3 linked regions of the Homo sapiens genome follow. The protein of the gene in region 1 purifies or fractionates together with the protein of each later gene. This does not show direct contact. Each region holds a gene or a part of one and is shown in the gene's direction. Other genes may lie near its edges.

Region 1 (3,650 bases):
TATGGTATGTGGGGAGATTTGTTTTTAAAAGGAAAAGGGGAAGAGAGGGTTGGGGAGGGCTCCTTAAAATTACACCAGAGGCTGGACACAGTGGCTCACACCTGTAATTCCAACACTTTGGGAGGCTGTGGCTGGAGGATCACTTGAGTCCAGGAGTGGCAAGACACCATCTCTACAAAAAATTTTTTAAAATAAGCCAGGCATAGTGGCACAGGCCTGTAGTCCCAGCTACTCAGGAGGCTGAGGCGGGAGGATCCCTTAAGCCCAGGAGTTCAAGGATGCAGTGAGCTGTGATTATGCCACTGCACTCCAGCCTGGATGAGAGATCAAGACACCCACCCAGTCTCTTAAAAAAGAAAGAAAGAGGCCAGGCACAGTGGCTCACGCCTGTAATCCCAGCACTTTGGGAGGCGGAGATGGGTGGATCACCTGAGGTCAGGAGTTCAAGATCAGCCTGGGTGACATGGTGAAACCCTGTCTCTACTAAAAATACAAAAATGAGCCAGGCATGGTGGCACACACCTGTAATCCCAGCTACTCAGGAGGCTGAGGCACAAGAATCACTTGAACCTGGGAGATGGAGTTTGCAGTGAGCCAAGATGTAGTTGCTGCACTCCAGCCTGGGCGACAGAGTGAGACTCCATCTCAAAAAACAAAAGAAAGAAATTCCACCAGATTCATTCTAGAGCTGGGTTTCTCAGCCTCGGCACTGACATTGGGCCGGACCTTCTTCACTGCAGGGGACTGTTCTGTTTATTTTAGGATGTTTGGCAGCATCCCTGGCCTCTATCCACTAGATGCTAGTTGCACCCCTAGAGTTTCAACAACTGAAAATGTCTCTAGACATTGCCAAATGTCCCTTGAGGGAGCAAAATTGCCCAAGGTTGAGAGCTGCTCTTCAGGACTTCGTTAGTTTCCAATTGCTGCTGTAACAAATTGCTGCAATTACTTAGTGGCTTTAAAACAACACATTTATTATCTTATAGTTCCTGGGGATCAGAAGTTCTAAAATCTAGGTGTCAGCATGGCTGTGTTCCTTCTGGAGGCCCCAGGAGAAAATCGGTTTCTTTGCCTTCTCCAGATTCTAGGGGCTGTCCTCATTCCTTGGGCTCCTGGCCCCTCCCTTCCATCTTTGAAGCCAGCAGTGTGGCAACTTCACACCTTTCTGTCTTTGGTCACATCTCTTCCTCTAACTCTGACCCTTCTACCTCCTTTTTATAAGGATCCTTGTGATTACACTGGGCTCACAGGATAATCCATGACTGTCTCCCATCTTAAGATCCTTAATCACATCTGCAAAGTCCCTTTTGCCATATAAGGTAACATATTCACAGGTTCCAGGGATTAGGATGTAGCCATCTTAGGGGAGCCATGTTTCTGCCTGCCGCAGACAGTCTGGCCTCAGGTTATAATGAAATTTGCTTGTGGAGGGTTTGTAGGGAGCGAAGTGATTTAGGGAGTCGGGGACTGGAGGATTATTGGGACATAACAGCAGCTAGTACTTTTGAGAGTCAAGTCTATCCCAGACACCATGTGCCTAATCTCATTGTATCCTCAGAACAACCCCTGCAGGGGTACTGTTAGCTGACCCCTGTTTACAGAGGAGGGAACTATCCAAGGAAGGCTTTCTGGAGGCCAGGTGCAGTAGCTCATGCATGTAATCAACTTTGGGAGGTCGAGGCAAGAGGATCGCTTGAGGCCAGGAGTTCAGAGGCAAGAGGATCACTTGAGCTTGGGAGACTGAGGCTGCCGTGAGCCATGATTGCACCATTGCACTCCAGCCTGGGTGACAGAGTGAGACCCTGTCTCAAAAAAAAAAGAAAAGAGACCAGCCTGGGCAATGTAGGGAGACGCCCATCTCTATAAAAATAAAATAACATAATTAGCCAGATGTGGGTGGTATGCACCTGTAGTCCCAGGTACAATGGAGGCTGAGGTGGGAGGATCACTTGAGCCCAGGAGTTGGAGGCTGCAGTGAGCTATGATTGCACCACTGCACTCCAGCCTGGCCAACAGAGCCAGACTCTCTCAGCAACAACAACAACAACAAACCCAAAAGAAACAAACAAGGAAGGCTTTCTGGAGGAGGTCAACATTTGAGCTGCGTCTTGAAGAGATTAAAGGGTTTTGCTAGTGAGTGGGAAAGGGATTCCAGGCAGAGGTGTTACTGGTGGAGGGTGTCCAGGTTCTTGGCATTTTGAGCAAAGAATTGGACAAAACACACGAACAAAACAAGGAAAGAAAGCAACGAAAGCAAATATTTACAGAAAACAAAAGTACACTCCACAGGGTGGGAGTGGGCTTGAGCAGATTGCTTACAGAATTGCCTGGGGTTTAAAAACCCTCTAGAGGTTTCCCATTGGTTACTTGATGTACACCCTATGTAAATGAAGTAATGGCCTGGGATCAGTCTGATAGGTTGTGGAATGCGACCAATCAGAGGCTGAAGTGAAGTTACAAATGAAGACTCCTATACAAACGAGGACTTGGCCAGCACCAGCCTGATTGGTTGTGGGAAGGGACCAATCAGAGGTAACTTCAGTTTTTCATCTGCCACGCAGGTAAGTTGGGGGTTGCAAAGGGAGTAGCCTCTGGTCCTTTTGTTACTTGGGCTTGGAAAGTAGGGGTTTTCCTTTTGATTTAGTTCTAGGAAGTCAGCCTGAATCAGCCTTAGGTTCCCTGCCTCCAGACCCTATTCGCCTGCCTCAGAGGCACCTGCAGATAGATACAAGGGCAAGGAGGTGAGGAGAGTTTGGTGGTGCATGGAGATTGATTCTTGGACTTGGAAACTTGGGAAGCTGAGATGGCAGGGAGGAAGGGACGGATGGGCTGGACTCTGTAAATTGGTCCTTTCATTCTGATGTACTATTTCTCTCAATAGTTTAAATAAATGTTTATGAGCACCCATTATATGCTAGGGGTGCAGACATTAAGACACTGATGTGAACTCTTAGCTTGATGCTTGACTTAATCACTCCTAATGCTGCATCCCAGTAAATAAACACTGAGCAGCCAGACACGGTGACTCACACCTATAATCCCATCTCTTTGGGAGGCTGAGGCGGGTGGATCACTTGAGGTCAGGAGTTCAAGACTAGCCTGACCAACATGGTGAAACCCCGTCTCTACTAAAAATACAAAAATTATCCAGGTGTGGTGGCGGGTGCCTGTAATCCCAGCTACTCGGGAGGCCGAGGCAGAAGAATCACTTGAATCCGGGAGGCGGAGGTTGCAGTAAGCCGAGATCACGCCACTGCACTCCAGCCTGGGTAACAGAGGGAGACTCCATCTCAAAACAAAAGAAACACTAAACATAAGGGTATTTGAGTTCATGTTGAGCACCTGTGCACTGAAGGCAATACAAGGTATGGGGGGAGGGATGGAGACAGCAGTGCAGACCTTAGGATGTCACAGCCCACCTGACAAGTCTATTGTCTAGGAGAGGGTCCCAGCTCCTAATGGTGGGGCCCAGGATTCAAACCCTGGCCATGCGGCTGTAGAGGACAAGCTGTTAGCCACTGTATTGGGCTTTGGTTTTTGTTTCTTGTTTGAAGGAAACTCGGGACTCCAGCTAGGGTTTAAAATATCTTCAGAACAAGCCAGGTGCAGCCCTCAACAGCCTAGCGCTGTGTAGTTCCGCTCCCTTAAGG
Region 2 (3,650 bases), on another chromosome or scaffold:
ACTTGGTATTGTTAGTCCTTTTAATTTTAGACATTCTACTAAGTATGTAATAATGTCTAATTGTTATTTTAATTTTCATTTTTATAATTGACTAATGAAGTTTTGCATTTTTTATGTGCTTTGTCACCATCTGTTTCTCTACCTTGGTTCAGATCTCTGAGCCCATTGTTTGATAGGGTTGTTTTACTGGAGTTATAAGAGTTCTTTAGATATTCTGTATAAGTTCTTTATCCCTTAATATGTATTTTGGAAGTGTGTTCTCTTAGTTTTGACTTGCTGGTTTTTTTTTAACGCATCTTTTGAGAAATGGAAGTTTTAAATTTTGATGAAGTCCAGTTTTTCATTTTAATAATATTTTGTGATTGTTTTTCTCCTATTGAAGAAATCTTTACTTCAGATTCACAAAGATCTCTAATGTTTTCTTCTGATTTTTTCTTTATCCAGTGTTTCATATTTTAACTTTTAAATTAAGGTCTATGGTACATTTTAAGTTATTATCATAGAGGGTAGAAAGTAAGGATTTCTTTTTTAATATGGGTATCTGAATGTGCCAAGACCCTTTGTTGAAAATATCATATATGACTACATATATCTGAGACACTTTCTGAATTTTGTTTGATTGATCCATGTACCTGTCCTTAAGCCAATACCACACTGTCTTGATTGCTGTAGCTTTATAATAAGCCTTAAAATCAGGTCACTTAAGTTGTCCAGTTTTGTTCTTTCTTCTCAGAATCATATTGGCTATTCTAAGTCTTTTGATTTTCCATATAAATTAATAATCACATGAACTATTTTTTTGAAAAGCTGCTGAGATGTTGATTATTCTTTTCCAGACATCTTTACTTTTTATATTATGTAGGTAACCAAAAAACAAACTTAGATAGACTGATAGACACAGGAAACAAAGATAAATTTTTGGTATTTGCCATACATGTAATAAACAAGAAATTAGAGAATTGAAATCATATATAGGCTGGAGATTTTTTAAATTTCCTGTGTTTTTAAGAAATGTCGAAGTCAAGATTTCTGAGCATTCTTTTTTGTTTGTTTGTTTGTTTATTTTACAGACAGGATTGCTTTCTGTCGCCCAGGCTGAAGTGCAGTGGTGTGATCATAGCCCACTGCAACCTCAAACTCCTGGGCTCAAGCAATCCTCCTGCCTCAGCCTCCTGCCTCAGCCTCCTGAGTAGCTAGAACTACAGGCACATGCCACCATCCCCAGCTAAATTTTTTTTTAAATCTCTTGTAGAAATGGAGGTGGTCTTGCTATGTTACCCAGGCTAGTCTAGAACTCCTGGCCTCAGGCAGTCTTCCCAAAGTGCTAGGACTACCGGTGTGAGCTACTGCCCCCAGCCCTGAGTGTTCTTTCTGCTCCATTTACTAATTTTGGTAGTTCTCTGGTTTATACTCTTTCTGAAATCCAGCTTATTCTGTCAGACACTATGTTAATTTTTTGGTCATACTTGGAAATGCCATATACTCCTAATAGGTATTGTTCTGGGGACTCCTTTTACAGGCAAGCTGCTTATTTTCATGTACTTCAAATAGAACTTTCTGTCTTAATTTCTTTATAATTATTGTCACTAATTTGCCTCACCAGAGCCATGTATAAAGTTTTTTTTTCCCCATTTGGTACGTTTGAATAGCTGGCCATAAATTACTTTAACAAATGTCTATATGAAGAAATTGTACTGTTAGCTAGAAAACAAAACAAACTTCCAGCTTAAAATTTATAAAAATCACAGTGTTCTAATTATAAAGGAAAACTGGAATTTAGAAAAATTTTCCCCTCCTGTTTTCCTGCTTCATTATTGCTGCTCTCAGGCCTGTAACTTCTTCAGCCTCAAAGTCTTTTTAAATTGAGAGACAGCTGTCCTTATAGTCAAAATCAATCTCATAGATAATAAAACTACCACTCTAAACTCTGAAGCATGGATGTTTATAATAATATGCTTTTATTCCCTCTAAAACAGTCTAACTTTTCAACATACACTATTTTTGAATTGAAATATTCATAATAATGCATTAAAGTTTTAATCATTGTTATTTTTAATTAAATGATTTGAACCTGATGAAGAAAAATAAGACCTTTTGTGAAAACAGGGTTATGTTCTTAGTAAATAATTGATAAATGTTATAATTCATGATGTGTTTAAACAGACTAGTTTGCCATCATTAAAATATCACATAGTACCTACTTTTATGTTTTTCTTTTCTGTTCTAGGTCACAGTGTGAGAAACGTCCAGGCCTTTGCAGTTCTTCAGAATGCATTTTTAAAAGCAAAAACCAGCTTCCTTGCCCAAATCATCCTTGATGCTATCACAAATATTTACATGGCTGACAATGCCAATTACTTCATCCTAGAGTCACAGCACACATTGTCACAGTTTGCAGAGAAGATTTCTAAACTCCCAGAAGTACAAAACAAATACTTTGAGATGCTGGAGTTTGTTGTTTTTAGCTTAAATTATATACCTTGTAAAGAACTTATTAGTGTCAGTATCCTCTTAAAATCTAGCTCTTCTTATCACTGTAGCATTATTGCAATGAAAACACTTCTTAAGTTTACAAGACATGACTACATATTTAAAGACGTGTTCAGGGAGGTTGGCCTTTTGGAGGTCATGGTAAACCTTTTGCATAAATATGCTGCCCTGTTGAAGGATCCAACTCAGGCACTAAATGAACAAGGTAAAGTATTGTCTGTAATTTTATTTTTATTTGAAAAGGGGTTCAAAACAGAGAATTTTTTGTTCTTGTTCCCATTCTTTGGTTATTGATTTCAATGACTTCCTAATGTGCATTATTGTGACATATTAGTGAACTGTATTTTCCAAAATTTACAGGTTCATTCAACCTCTGTTAGGTAATTGAGGAGGAGGAAGCTAGAATTATGTGAGTGTATTGGAGAGAGTTTAAAGGAAGGTAAAAACTGAGGGAAAACATGTATGATCCACATGACTAGTATCTACTGCCTTGTGCTTCTAAGAGCGAGCTTTAAAAGCTTCTGAAAATAATCAGATTTGTTATTAATTACAACTAATAAATATAGTTAAATGTATAGTTACTTCAATGTGTTTTTATTGTACAGAGCAAATACGTATATTTAATGATGTTATATACACAATGTATTATCATTGGGTACCTCTCTGATAAATCTGATAAAAGTACAGTAGTATCTGGCAATTAATAAGTATTAAATGTGAATTAATACAGGTTGAATAGATAGCTTTATTCATGAACTTTTCTCTCTTTTTGGTGTATCAAAATCTAGCGTTCTCCTGTTGACATCCTTTATTAGGAAAACCCTCTGTGAAGAGGATATATTTAACCTTTGCATTTTCATTTTTAATATTTATTGGATAACGGCCACTTGCAAGCATACCGAAATAAAATCTGTTAATATTGATTTTGAGCCTACTTTTGCCAAATGTTGGATGCATGCATCGTTTTAAAGATTATATTATATCTGTCCTATTAGGGGTAAAACTGAATACTGAAGAAATAAAGAAATTATTACAGTAAAACGGAATCAAGAAAAAATAAGCTTATCACTTTTGTAATTTGGACCTTTGAACCTTTTTTTAGGGGACTCAAGAAATAATAGTTCAGTTGAAGACCAAAAACACCTGGCTTTATTGGTTAT
Region 3 (3,650 bases), on another chromosome or scaffold:
TGGCCCGAGGGTCCCGCTTGCCGCCTCCTGCCTTTGGTCCCACGCGATGAGGGCCCATTTACCCCCTGCCCGCGCGTGCCTCCTGCCATGGGCTTGGTTTCTGGGGTCGTGGGGATTCCAGCAGCTCCTGGCGCCTCACCCGCCCCCTCGCCGTGTCCTGCAGAAGTTTGACGAGCTCCTGCACCTGGCCTCGAGGGGCCAGCACAGCAATGTGGACATGCTGGTGCGGGACGTCTACGGCGGCGCCCACCAGACTCTCGGGCTGAGCGGGAACCTCATCGCCAGCAGCTTCGGGAAGTCGGCCACCGCCGACCAAGGTGCTCACCCCGGCCTCTGCCGCCAGAGAGCAGGATGGTGGGGACACTTGGGGTCTCACGGACAGGAGCTTCCCCCACCATTGCTTTCCCACAACTGCTCCCTGGAGAGTCGGGGTCTTGGGTGTCAGCCCTGTAACCTCTTCCTGCCGAGTCGCTGCAGCTCAGGCCCACTGCTCAGAACGTCGGCAGATAAACGCCACGGTCTTGGTTTTGGAAGAAAAAATAGTTTCCTGATTGGGTTTTTTCCTCCTTCAAAACAAAGCTTAATCCGTCCAGGAATGATTCACACATCACACGCAGCCTCCCGCACTTGGGCTCCAGTTCCCCCACTCAGCTCTCTCTCCCCCTCCCCTCCCACTCAGCTCTCTCTCCCCCTCCCCTCCCACTCAGCTCTCTCTCCCCCTCCCCTCCTGCTCGCTCTCATGTCGTGCACTTGCTGTACTTGGAGATGAGTGCCTTTTCCTTCCCTTCCTCAGAGTTCTCCAAAGAAGACATGGCGAAGAGCCTGCTGCACATGATCAGCAACGACATTGGGCAGCTGGCCTGCCTCCACGCACGGCTGCACAGCCTGGACCGCGTGTACTTTGGAGGCTTCTTTATCCGGGGCCACCCCGTGACCATGCGCACCATCACCTATAGCATCAACTTCTTCTCCAAGGTAACGGATGCGCCGCCCTCCCCAGCCTCTAACGCAGACCCCCCAGGATCTTCCCAATCAGTCATGCTGGTTAGACACCGCAGCACCCCCAGGGAGGCCTGGAGGGTGGGGGCCAAGAAGCCCAGCACCCCTCCCTTCTGACTGATTCTGGGCAGCCTACATTTTGTGGCACCGTGGCCACCTGAGTTTGAGTACATCACCAGTGATGAGCATTCTAGAGAGCTCCAGGCAGGCCTGCTGATCTGCGCTGGGGTCAGGGTGCCCCTGCCCCCGCAGAGGCACGCCCACCCACATGCCTGACGCAGAGACTTGTGGGCCAGGGACTCGCTGCATGGGAGAAGCTATCTCACCCTTAGCTTTCTTCAAACAGCAGCCCGCCCTCTGGTGCCAGGCGCGATTCCACTGGCAAGTATGCCGTGGGTGCCATGGCGCCTCTTCGAGGGTTTGGGCCGCGCGGTGCGAGGCCCGCGCACGTTGAGCTGGTTTGCGGAGGCACCGGGTGTTGTGTGGGGCCAACAGCAGCACGTGTGCTTTGGCCACGGCAGGGGGAAGTGCAGGCGCTGTTTCTGAGGCACGAAGGCTACCTGGGAGCCATCGGAGCGTTCCTGAAAGGAGCTGAGCAGGACAGTGAGTCGCGGTGCTGGCGCCCCTGAGCAGCGTGGGGCCTCAGCTGTGGCCTGGGCCTGTGCTCCAGGCCAGGGCGGCCCAGGGTGGAGGTGGGGTGGGGAGCGTGAGTCCTCAGAAAGTGACAGCAGCAGGCATGTCTAACATTTTAACAATTTAGTTAATAAGCGATTTTATACCCTTTCCTCCTCCACTCTCCTGCTTTTGAATCAAGGGCAAGGTTAACACAAGTGACCTGGCTTCTTGCTTTCCAGATCCTAACCAGTACAGCTGGGGAGAGAACTATGCAGGCAGCTCCGGGCTGATGAGTGCATCACCCGAGCTCGGCCCGGCGCAGCGGGCGCGGAGTGGCACTGTGAGTAGTGGGCTCTGGCCGCCCCGGGCCCCAGGGGAGCAGCCTATGCCGCACTCACCTCGCCTGTCCCTGAGCGAAGCCTCTTGTGGCTGTCCCGGCTGAAAGGCGCCTCTGCCCATGGCGAATCCTCCCATGGACCTGGGGTATAACTAGGGGCAAGAGAAGGACACTGTGGCTTGCTTTCCCATCTCCCTCATTGGGTGCTTTCGTATTTTGGAAACATTCAGCAGGAATTACGGAGTCTGTGTGATCCGGCCTTCTTGTTTGCAGAGAGATTGCTAAAGTTCAGGGGTGACGGGGACCTCTCCCCACGCCAGAAGGCCCGTCCACTTTGGAGTTGAAACCCGAAACCGCAGGAGCCACCCAGGGCCCTGCCTAGGACTGCGCGCTCTGCCGCACACTGCCGCGCACTGTGGCTGATGGTCTGTCGGTTACAGTCTGCTCTCCTCGGGGTGTCCCGGCTCATTCCTTGGATCCCCAGTGGGTTTGCCCTGGCCTGAGCTGGGTGGCACTGGCGGGCTAGGAGACGCACCCCATGTCTGCCGAGTTGGAGCTGCTCCGGAAGGGTCCCCCGCCAGGACCTGCGTCAGCCACGGGATGCCCCCAGCACAGCCCCACATGGCAGGAACCGCCCCGTGTCACAGGCTGTCAGGGTCCTCGACCGTGCCCCCCCGCGGGGCTCATTCCTTCTGTAGCTGTGAGCAGTTAACCTGAGGTCACGCACAAAGCTAGTCGGACCCCTCAGGACAGGCCGCTGGCATTGTTGGCAGGAAGTTGCTTGTCATTTGTAGACATGGGGTTCAGTGTCAGTATTTTCAAGACCGCGACTTGTTGAGTTTTGGCTTCTCAGGAGGGCGCCTCCCTTTTGTGTGGGTCCTGCAGTTCACACCAGGCCACGGCCTCGCACAGACGCACCACACTGGCCGCAGCCCTGGTCTGCCTTTCCCACCGCCAGCACTAGGCAGGGGAGTGGGGGCGAGGCTCTGGGGGCCTGGCAGAGCCCCAGGCTCTCAGCTTTTGCCCTGCTGTTGGGCAGAGGGGCTTGGTGTCTTCCAGCCTCAGTTTCTGATTTGCCAAGTGTGCATAATTTGCCAAATGTCCTGGACTGTAACCTGGAGTGACTGCGTGGACGGCCACAGTGCTTCGGGGGCCCCGTTCAGGAGGCGCTTGTTACCTATTTGGTACCCCACCAGTGGCACAGCCCTGCCAGGCAGGAGGGGCCCCCACCTTACTGAGGATCAAACTGACATGCAGAGAGATGGAGTCATTTATTTCAGTTTATATTGTCCAAAAAAGTCAAAGCGAAGATTTGAACCCATTTGTCAGGATAGAAGGAGCCTGCGACCTGGCAAGGCAGCACCAGGCGATCCCGGCTGTGGTCCGTGGTAGTTAAGGTGGGGCTCCTGCCGCCTTCTGCACTGGCTTTGGGAAGTCACTGGCTTTTTCCACGTGGAGCTTCTGCCCGGCATGGGCTTCCCACCTGGAAGGCGTCCCCTTTGCTCTGGAGGTCCCTGCCCACCCAGAGGCTGCTTCTCCAGCCCCAGGGGTTGCCAGCAGGGGTGCCCCAGTGGAGAAGGGCAGAGGGCCAGCATGTGACCTGTGGGGTAGCCACCGGAGGGTGGGAAGAGGCGGTCAGCTACACAGTTCCCCTCATAGCCCCTCTGGTCCCAGAGCAGCGGCTGCTGCGGTGAGCGTG

The links.
Region 2: the proteins of EEF2K (region 1) and WDFY3 purify together in Homo sapiens (affinity purification with mass spectrometry; one large-scale study listed by BioGRID and IntAct). This does not show direct contact.
Region 3: the proteins of EEF2K (region 1) and PANK4 fractionate together in Homo sapiens (co-fractionation; one large-scale study listed by BioGRID). This does not show direct contact.

What each region holds. Positions count from the first base shown.
Region 1 is NC_000016.10:22,212,633-22,216,282, forward strand, and holds part of EEF2K (eukaryotic elongation factor 2 kinase), read left to right. Parts: intron 1-3,650. UniProt on the Homo sapiens protein: Threonine kinase that regulates protein synthesis by controlling the rate of peptide chain elongation.
Region 2 is NC_000004.12:84,820,129-84,823,778, reverse strand, and holds part of WDFY3 (WD repeat and FYVE domain-containing protein 3), read left to right. Parts: intron 1-2,227; coding exon 2,228-2,695; intron 2,696-3,592; coding exon 3,593-3,650. UniProt on the Homo sapiens protein: Required for selective macroautophagy (aggrephagy). Acts as an adapter protein by linking specific proteins destined for degradation to the core autophagic machinery members, such as the ATG5-ATG12-ATG16L E3-like ligase, SQSTM1 and LC3.
Region 3 is NC_000001.11:2,516,468-2,520,117, reverse strand, and holds part of PANK4 (4'-phosphopantetheine phosphatase), read left to right. Parts: intron 1-163; coding exon 164-317; intron 318-793; coding exon 794-975; intron 976-1,520; coding exon 1,521-1,602; intron 1,603-1,853; coding exon 1,854-1,954; intron 1,955-2,224; coding exon of another isoform or gene 2,225-2,236; exon of another isoform or gene 2,237-3,650. UniProt on the Homo sapiens protein: Phosphatase which shows a preference for 4'-phosphopantetheine and its oxidatively damaged forms (sulfonate or S-sulfonate), providing strong indirect evidence that the phosphatase activity pre-empts damage in the coenzyme A (CoA) pathway.